Regions from separate parts of the Homo sapiens genome. Here region 2 is linked to region 1. The links come from fine-mapping of genetic effects on gene expression. Tissue or cell type: whole blood. Region 1 holds a variant in brackets; the other region holds the start of a gene. All regions are shown on one strand. Distances are from middle to middle.

Evidence for each region. PIP is the estimated chance that this variant, and not a neighbour inherited with it, causes the effect.
Region 2: it holds the start of MAN1C1, and the variant in region 1 is fine-mapped to the expression of MAN1C1 in whole blood (INTERVAL, PIP above 0.99).

The regions. Positions count from the first base shown.
Region 1 is chr1:25,673,400-25,678,592 of GRCh38, forward strand. All of the region lies in intron 1 of MAN1C1 (mannosidase alpha class 1C member 1), which reads left to right. Among named protein-coding and RNA genes, the nearest start is that of MAN1C1, 59 kb to the left of the region's middle. RefSeq lists a silencer at 2,845-2,914 and an enhancer at 2,995-3,044. The variant G/A (reference allele first, on the strand shown) is at 2,695.
Region 2 is chr1:25,613,695-25,618,804 of GRCh38, forward strand. MAN1C1 (mannosidase alpha class 1C member 1) reads left to right here and starts at 3,097. Exons shown (of 12, transcript NM_020379.4): 1 at 3,097-4,643. The coding sequence starts at 4,104. RefSeq lists an enhancer at 2,363-2,532 and silencers at 2,723-3,012, 3,033-3,322.

The DNA of each region.
Region 1 (5,193 bases):
GCTCTGTTGCTTACTTGCTATGATACTTGGGCAAGTACCTCAGTTTCCTTACCTGAAAATGAGAGTAATGTTATACCAGTCCTATAAAATTAGTGTGAAGATTAAATGAGTTTATATGTAAAGCACTGATGACTCATGGAAAACACTAGGTAAATATAACAGTATCATTATTTTTACACAGATGAACAGATTGAGGCACAGAGAGGTTAAGTATCTTGTCCAAAGACACACAGCTGGGTAAAGCCAGGATCCAAAGCCAGGCTCTGAACTGCTATGCCTTACCTCCTCCCCAGGAGCACGTCACAGAGATGTGGTGAAAACGGCATGTGCACATGCATACAAAAGCACTTAGCAGTGTGCATGACACAATATGTCCCATAAATGTCTGTATGTGGAAGTGCGGTTTCTTTTGCTGTAAAATGGGGGTGATTACCCCTACCCTGCCTAACTCACAGGTGACGGTAAGGCTCAAATGAAAAAGGCAAAGCATTTTGGAAATGGTAGAGACACTTGCACATGGGCAGGTTTTGTTGAACCATTTCGCATTGGAATTTCACTTGTGGGTGACCTAAGATCTTTCCCACTGTCACTCATCTTTGTCCCCCACACGCTGTCTTCCTGCCCCCACCTAACACCCAATCTGTGATAGAACAGAGCGGTTGGGGACCTGTCCCAATGCAGTGGCTCCCAGGTTTGGTGGCCTTCTCTGTGCAGCTGCTCTTGTCTGTCTGCACGCTGCACCAAGACCAAAGCCTCGCTGGGAAGGGTCTCACCTGCTCTTGCTGTTGTGGCCTCACAATTGGAGCTGTCCCTTTATTGGGCCTTTGATAAATCCTTGTTGAGTCAAGGCCACTGGGCAGTGAGTGCTTCTGTCCCAGGCATCCTCCTTAATCCTTTGACATGAGCAGCCCTAGAGGTTGCCTCGTGTTGTCACCATCCTTAGTCATTTAATCAACATATTTTTATGGAAAGTCTCTATGTGCTGGGTACTCTCCTAGGTGCTAGGGAGCAGTAATGAGCAATGGAGCCAACAGAGCCTCGTGGAGCCTGCATAATCATGCAGGGAAATAGATACTAATTAATCACACAACTAATGTAAAATTTTGACTTTAATAATCCTCCATAATAGGGTGATTCAACCTGAAGGGAAGACCTCTCTTGGAAGTGGCAACCAAGCCTGGGCACTGAAAGATGAGTGGAATTCACCAGGCAAAAAGAGGAGGGAGGAGTTGTCCAAGGAGCGGGACTATTGTGTGCAAAGGCCCTGTGGCAGGGGGAGGCATGGTTCCTTGAGGAAAAGAGAGAGAAAGCTAGTGTGGCTGTGGCAGAGATGGGGAGGATAAGCTGACTGAAGGCGTGAGTGGGTGACTTCCTGGGCCTGATGGGCCTCAAGAAGGAGTTTATTTAAGTGTGTGTTTGGGATGAAGCAGAGCGATATGAATAAATTTGCACTTCAAATAACCACCCTGGCTGCAATGTGGAGAGCAGTGTAGGAAGCCAGGGAGGACCCATCTAGGCCAGTCAGGAGGCAGTCGCAGGAGTTCCATGGAGAGATGGGAGTGGTTTGGATTAGGGTGGTGCTCATGGTGGTGGTACAAAGAGAAGTGGATGGAGAGATACTTCTCTTTTAGTGGATACGTTAATAGGATAGCAGTATCCTGTGGCTGCTTTTTATTGATTGATTGATTCATTTTATTTCAGTAGTTTTTGGGGTACAGGTAGTTTTTGGTTACATAGATAAGTTCTTTAGTGGTGATTTCTGAGATTTTCGTGCACCTGTCACCTGAGCAGTTTATACTGTACCCAATATGTAGACTTTTATCCCTCAACCCCTGCAGTCTTTCCCCCAACTCTGAGTCCCCAAAGTCCATTATATCATTCTTATGCCTTTGTGTCCTCATAGCTTAGCTTCCACTTATAAGTGAGAATATACAATATTTAGTTTTCCAATCCTGAGTTACTTCACTTAGAATAAGAGCCTTCAGCTCCTTCTAAGTTGCTGCAAAGGACATTATTTCATTCCTTTCTATGGCTGAGTAGTATTCCATGGTGTATATATGCCACATTTTCTTTATCCACTCATTGGTCGATGGGCACTTGGGTTGGTTTCGTATCTTTGCAATTGCAAATTGTGCTGCTATAAATGTGTATGCAAGTGTCTTTTTCATATAATGACTTATTTTGCGGGGGGGGGGGGAGGTGGTTACCCAGTGTGGGATTGCTGGATCAAATGATAGTTCTACTTTTAGTTCTTTAAGGAATCTCCATACTGTTTTCCATAGTGGTTGTACTAACTTATATTCCCACCAGCAGTGTAAAAGTGTTCACTTTTCACCACATCCATGCCATGGCTGCTTTTTATTGAGCACATATTATATACGAGCCATTGTGCTCAACACTTTACATCTGTTATTTACTCTTAGGGTTATTCTAAGGATTAAGTATTTCTGTCCTTTTACAGATGAGGAAACTGAGACTTACAGGGGTTAAGTCACTCACTCAAGGCCACACAGCCAGTAAGGTGGCAGAGCCCTAGAGCAGCCTCTCAAGCTTCAATGTGCGTTTGAATCACCTGGGGCTCTTGTTAAACTGCTGCTACAGATTCAGCAGGTGGGAGAGTGGAACTGAGGTACTCTGTTTCTGACGTGCCCCCTGGGTGGCCCTACTCCTGGTCCCTGGAGCACTTTGAGCAGC[G/A]AGAGTTTCTCTGCCTGTATGGCCCACACTCTCGACCCTGATGCCTTAGAAACAGCTGCAGACAGGATGCGATTCCTGAGACTGCTCAAACCTGAAACCCCATGGGCAGGATGTGGGTGAGCTGTCTGGACCTCAGGTGGGTGGGAGTTGTATCATATGCTCATTTCCCACATTGGCCTTTCAATAGCTTGAGTAAACCCGAAACTGAGAGGGTTGGAGGCAGCATCTCCCCTTCTACTCCCCCGCTTCACCTCCCCGGGCAACCAAACCCCACCCGTGCCCAGCTTCTGAGCGATAGACCTGGGCTGTGTATTTGCAGGAGCCTCACTGGGGTCACCAACCAGGTCATGTTGTGTTGCCCCAATAAATGGAACTGGATCAGAAAATCCAACGTGGATAGTTTTTAGGTGCCAAGCTGTCAGCTCTTCCCTTGGACTGTGCTGAAAGTGGAAGAGGAGAAAAAAATCAACCCAATGTTCTAAGCTCTCTGTCTACATAGTCATTAGATCCCAGGATCGTTAGAGACCAAATCCCTTCCCACTTGGCCCCTGCAAATGGGGCCAGGTGTCACTGCTGGGAGACGCCAGTAAGGCTGCACGTCATGGTGTGAGCACTTGTCTTTAATGACTGGGAAAATCCATTTCCTTCCTTGGCAGCTTTGAATGTAGCAACTGTGGTTCTGGGTCACTGCCAGAGCCAGCCTTGTGTGTATGTGTGTGATTTTTTAAAGTGGGGGAGAATGTCTCAATATTCAATGCTCACCCCCTTCCTTCCAAGTTGTACCCCCAGAGAACTGTCCAACACAAACTTTGGAGTTTTCCACTCTGGGAGTGGTCTGCTGGCACCCACGTGTCCTCCCCTCCTCTAATGCATCCTTTCTCTCTTGATCTCATTGTTCTGGGGTCCTCAGCTGAGTGGGCATCTGTGCCTGGGTGATCGATTCTAGTCTCTTTTCTGCAGGAGAGAACTCTTGAGCTCTGAGACAGGTAGAAAGAAAATCTTAAACCAAATAATAATGTTCTGCCTCACACTAGTAAATATTTTGCACTAAAAAATTCCGTGTCATTTTGATTTGTTCAGGTAGACAAGAACATCTTTTGTTTGAGGAAGAACTGAAGAGATTTCTTGGGATTCAGCTCCGATGGCTCTGCCTGTATCTCTCTATCATTGGAGCTTTGTTTTCCACCTTTGCAAGACTTGAGTGAAGGGAAGGCTTTGTGGTCTATTGTTAGGTGCTCTTTGAATCTATAAATCACAGGCTACAGGAAGGGAGGGGCTTCCAGAGACCATCTAGAGCCACCCTCTATCTCTAGCAGGGACACACACACACACACACACGTACACACACACAATGACTGCCTGTTGCGCGTTTCTAGAACCTAGTGGGGACAGGGGTACAGTTTCTTTTGGTGCATAGTTCTCATGTTGATTGGTTCCGACTGTCATGTTCTTGCACCTGTCCTGAGTATCTCTTGCTGTAGCTCTGGCCCTTTCCCCAGTCAGCTACTGCACTGCCCTGGCCCATGTTTCTTAGAGACATGGTTATCTCTGTGCTATTAGTGTCTGTGTCCTGGCCGAGGCAAGTCCCTTCCCTTTCTGAGTCTATATTCTTATAAAATGTGGCTTTGAGAATAGATGATGTTTCTGGTCTTAAAATTCTCTTTGACTCTGGAGTTCTGGATCTGTGCTTCTGTTTGATGTTGTTTCTCTTGCTGGGTGACCTTCTCTCTGACTCCCTGCTGTAAAGACCTCCTTTTTTTTTTTTTTTTTTTTTTTTTTTAATCAAAACCTAACTTGGTCCGACCTACCCCATGGCTGACCACCCAGGCACTTGCTTTTGACTTAAGGGTAGCACCATACGATGTCTTCTTTTTGTTTTTCATTTTAACAACCTGTATTTTTCACATCACAAAACCTTTCTAGATATTCACTGTAGAAAATTCAGAAAATATAGGTCAATAAGAAGAAAAAGATAGAAATCACTAAACTTCTATCAGACATAACCGCTGTTAAGAATTTGGTATATTTTCTTTCAGTCTTTTTTGTAAACACTCATACATAGGCCAGTGAATTTCATACTATGTAATTTTGTGTTCTGCCTTTCCACCTAATAATATATACTGAGCATTTTTGCCTATCATGAAACATTTGTAAACACAATTTTTAATACCTATTTACTACTTTACATCTCCTACTTTAGCCCTTGCATAATTATTTCCAAATGGAACAAATATCTGTCTTGTCCAGCCCACTGAACTGGCCAAATCAAATGAGATAAAATATGCAAAGAGCTGCACAAATATAAGTGATGATTGTTCATTTTGTTAGTTTTATCTCCCCAAGTGAACTACTTTACCGTATTGTCTCAAAATCGTTAAACAGTTTCCTGTTCACCAAGTTTTGCACAGTGGTGGGCAAAACATGCTGTCTGGCTGTAATCTCTTAAAAGGGCGTTACATATTAATAACTTTAAAAGTTTTTTCTTAGCAACTTCTTAGA
Region 2 (5,110 bases), 60 kb before region 1:
GGGATGCTTACATAGCTGGTAAAACATTACTTCTGGGTGTGTCTGTAAGGGAATTTCTGGAAGAGATTAGTAATTGAATCAGTAAATTGAGTAAAGAAGATCTGCCCTTACCAGTATGGGTGGGCAGCATCCAATCCACTGATGGCTGAAACAGAACTAAAAGGAAGAGGAATGGCAAATCCATGCTCTGTGCTTGAGCTGGAACATCCATCTTCTCCTGCCCTTGGACATCAGCTCTCCTGGTTCTCGGGTCTTCAGACTCAGACTGGGATTTACACTATCGGCTCTTGTGGTTCTCAGGCCTCCTGGCTTGGACTGGAACTACACCACCAGCTTTTTAGACCTCCAGATTGCAGATGGCAGATTGTGGAACTTCTCAGCCTTCCATAATCACAGAAGTCAATCCCTCATAATAAATCTCTTTTTATATATCTATATATAGCCTATTGGTTCTGTTCTGGAGAACTCTGATTAATATAGATACTTATAACTCATCCCAAGTCTCTCTAAGCCTTGGTATTCTTATCTGTAAAATGGGGCTATTAATAATTATCTACCACAAAGATTATTCTGAAAAGTAAATAAGACAATATGTATTTGGCACATAGAAAATGTTAGTTCACTGTTCTTCCATTCCCCGAGCTTCAGTTTCTACATCTGTGAAATGGGCATCTACTCACTCATTTCTTCATTCATTTACTGAGCAAACACAGTGCCCATGTGGAAGGCATTGTGGTTAAGACCCGGGGCAGTTAGAGAAGTTAGAGAGTTAGAGAAGTGAGGAAGCCGTGGTGAAGAACTGAGCATCTGCTTTGTGACAACACACCAATAGTCTTTAAAAGTCAGTGGGAGAAGAGCCACGGGATGTATGAGGTCTCTGGGGGCTAGAGGTGTGGGGCAAGGGGACACCCAGGGTTTCAGAGAGCTTTTTAGAGAGACTGGTATCTCCCTAGCAAGTGATGGTATCAACAACTTGGTGTGATCACCAACATCACATCACTTTGCAATGGAGTTACCTGCTGGGGCCTCTGGTTTTCATAGCCTGAGTGTGAAAGGCACGTCAGTCCTGCTGCAGCCCCACTTTCCACCCTGGCTCACAGAGCACACCAGAGTTTGGTCAGAGTGTCACATCACAGTGAGCATCTAGTTCAAACAGACATTTCCTTCTGAGATTCAGCTCTGCTCTTCTCCCTTTCTGGATCCTACCTTCACAGGGGACTGAACAGTGATTCCCCTACACTCTCAATGAGGAACAACACAGATGATGACTCTAATGAATGCTGGGTCCCTGCCTGGTTCTCCAAAGACAAGGTTGCCCTTTCCTGCAGTGGGACCCAGTGAGGCGATGCTTGGGTGTTGGAGACATGGGTGAGGCCAGGCCAGGTCTCTGGGCTCCTGCACCCAAATGGGTCACATGCTTATCTCTGATTTGCACAGCTGGCTCCACATCAACCTGCCAACGAAACTCACAAGAGATTGAAATATCTGAATTAGAATTTTATATTTAAGCTGCATATATTTGTGGGATTGGGAAGGATTAGTCATCTCCAGTGACCAAAATGTTTGCACCTGTTACCCACTTTCATTTTCAGTTGAGAGAAAGTTGCATGCCAGGGATATTTAAACATCGAGGGTGGGTCTGCTGTCAGTGGTCTGGCCAGAGGTAGAAGGATGACTGAGTCCCAGCCGCCCATCCCCAGCAGGCCTCAGGGAAGAAGCAAGATTTACGAGGCGAGAGCCTGCCTGGCCCGCTTCTTCTGTCGGGAAAGGCTTCCCTGCAGTATTTTCTGTCTCGTCAACACTGCATTTCATTTTAAATTGCAGCTGAAAGTAGATATTTTCCCTCTTGCCTATTACAAACCTCTTAATTTGTCTCTCCCTCTGCTGTTATTTGTCTCTATAAAGTGTTTTGCATGAAAGACCCACACAGCACAATGTTGCTTCACCCTGGGTTAGGTTTAACAGGAAGGGAAGATGCAGAGACTAAGTCCAAGGAGGAAGATGTGAGGGCCTTGGGGTTGAGGACACGCGTGTCTGGGAGTTGATGCCTGGCTGTTTTTGGAGGTTATCTGTTGCCTGAGTGTCTGTGGGTATGCGGGTGCACATGTCCATGTTTGTACTAATTTACATATATGTCTATGCATACTGTGGTATAATCACTTGGGTGTCCATACCCAAATTAAGTGTATGTTTGAGTGCATGTACACACCCACATGCCAGTCTCTGTGTGCATATAGATCTATGCCCAGACGCACACATGTGCATATAAACACACGTAGGCATCAAGGTAGACGTCCGTCACATTATGTGTGTGGTCTTCTGTAGACACGCCCGGGGCTCTCTTCCTTTCGCTGCTTCTCAAGGCTGCGGTCAGCCTCCCTCCGTGCTCCACCCAGGAGCCCTGGCCCCGTTTAGGGTTGTGGGAAAAGGAAGGCACGCCAGTGGTCTGCGAGGGGGCCAGTGGAAACATCACCTCCGCCGACCCGGCCGCGGTCACAGCTCTCTGGCTTGGCTCCAGCCACCAGCAGCACCCCTGCAGCCCGGCGTTAGCGCTGAGAAGCCCGGGGCAGCCGCCAGGGCGCGGGCTGCCAGCTCCCTGACAACCCCGGGCTGGCACTCGGGGGCGAGAGAGGTCACCCAGCGACGGGCACACCCCTCCAGAGCAACACCGTCTCCGGCCCGCTTCCGGGGGCCACCAACCCGAGCCTCGCGGGCGGGCTGGGGGGTGGTCTCTGTCGCTTGGGGTCCAGCGAAGGCTGGGCAGTAACCAATGGACGACTGTGGCCCAACGGGGATCCCTCGGATGCAGCCAATGCCCTCGTTGCGCTCTCCGCCCCCGCCCTCGCCTGCCCCGCGCCGCTGGACCATTGGCGCCCGCTGGATGGGGGGTGCGCGCGACGCCTGCCCTTCGGGGAGGGCGGGGCTTGGAGCGGGCTGCGCTCCCGCCCGCGCTCGGCCTCTGCCCCGCCCCCGGACGCGCGGCCCTCAGCCGGCTGCGGCGCGGCGGCGGCGGGAGGGGGCGCGGGGCGCGCGCGTGGGCGTGGCCGGCGGGCGTGGCCGGCGGGCGGCAGGAGGCGGGGCGGCGGGCGCTGTCGCAGTGAAAGCCCGAGCGGCGGCGGCGGCGGGGACGGCGGTGGAGGCGGCCGGGTGGCTGTGCGCGCGTGTGGGGCGCAGGCTCGGCGGCAGCGGCCGGTCTGGAGCGGCCGCTGCGAGGAAGACAGCTGCAGCGGGGGAGGCGCGGCCAGGGCTGCGCGCTCCGCGGAGCCGGCGGGGCCGGGAACAGGTGATCCCAGTGGGAGCCCCGCGCCCTGCCGAGTTCGAGGGGCGGGAGCCCGCGCTCCCGGGCGCATCTGCAGCCGCCCAGCCGCGGCTCCGGACCCAGGCATCCCTGCGCTGTCTGGGGCCCGGGGGAAGCCCCCTGCCCCCGCAGGCTCGGAAGTGCCTGCTCCTGCTCCCTGGCCACTCCGGCTCCCAGCTCCCGGCGCCCTCTCCGCGGCGGAGAAAGTTGTGGACGTGTCCCGATAGTCGAGCCCGGGCGCTGTCGCGACCGGGCCGGGTGTGCGCGCGCTCGGGGCGGCGCTGACACGCCAGCCCCCCATCGCCTCGGTCCCCTCCGGAAACTGCTTCTGAAGCTGAAACTTTGGGCGCCTACCAGCGCGGGCGGGAGCCTAGGGGGCGGAGGGCGGCTTGGTGCGGGCCTGCGGGCGCCCCTCGGCGCGGACAGCCGGGACGCCGCGGACGGCATGTGACGGTCCCGGCGGCCGCAGCGCGGGAAGGCGCGGGCCCCGGCGCGGCGGGGAGGGCTCGGCCGGAGGGGAGGCTGCGGCGCGCGGCCGGTCGCTGCGGGCCCGGGCCCCAAGCCGTGCCGCTCCGCTCGCCCGGGCCCCGCCGAGGCCGCTGCGCCCCCGCCTCCTCGCGGGAGGACTCGCTCCAAACTCCCTGAACTTCGGGGACAGTCCCCCGAAGCGGCGAAACTCTCAGGGTTGGCAACCCTGCCCAGGGACCCCCATCCCGGGCGGCGCTCCGGACGCCCTCCCCTCACCGCGCCCCCGCAGACACGTGCCTGGACTCCGAGGGCTTCTGGAGCCACCGGCCGGGCCACGATGCTCATGAGGAAAGTGCCCGGCTTCGTCCCGGCCTCCCCGTGGGGGCTGCGGCTGCCGCAGAAGTTCCTCTTCCTCCTCTTCCTCTCGGGCCTGGTCACCCTGTGCTTCGGGGCCCTCTTCCTGCTGCCCCACTCCTCTCGCCTCAAGCGCCTCTTCCTGGCCCCCCGGACCCAGCAGCCTGGTCTGGAAGTGGTGGCTGAAATCGCCGGCCATGCCCCGGCCCGCGAGCAGGAGCCGCCTCCCAACCCGGCCCCCGCCGCGCCGGCCCCGGGCGAGGATGACCCCAGCAGCTGGGCCAGTCCCCGCCGCAGGAAAGGGGGGCTGCGGCGCACCCGCCCCACTGGACCCCGCGAGGAGGCCACGGCGGCCCGGGGCAATAGCATCCCGGCCTCCAGGCCCGGGGACGAGGGCGTCCCTTTCCGCTTTGACTTCAACGCATTCCGGAGCCGTCTCCGCCACCCGGTCCTGGGAACGAGGGCCGATGAGAGTCAGGAGCCCCAGAGCCAAGTGCGAGCCCAGCGGGAGAAAATCAAGGAGGTATGGACTCAGCCCCCAAACTCCTCCCACCAACTGCCCCCTCTAAGGAGAGAAGACCCTCTGGCGCTCCCACCCCTTTCCCTTGCCTCAGTCACTCCTGGTCCCAGGTCTACTTCTGGCCCTGCAGACTGCACTTTGCACCTTCCCCTTTCCTCCCAAATGTCCCACCTTCTTTCCTCCCTACACAGTTTCCCACCACTCGGGTCAGTTAATCGTCCCCACCGTGACAGATGGCAGCTGAACCCCTAGACCAACTGCCCCCTCACTCCCAGACTCTGGTATGTCGTATCCAACCCCCAGGCCCAGTGAGCTCCACTCCTTCCCTTTGTGGAGTTGCTAATGAGAGTGGAGTTCAGGTTCCTTAGTGCACCCTCTTTTTGCATTTGTGGACACAGAGCCACTGGTCCCATTCTTTTTCACTGTGTGACCTTAAGTCCAAAACCCCTATAGGACCTGCTTACCTAAAA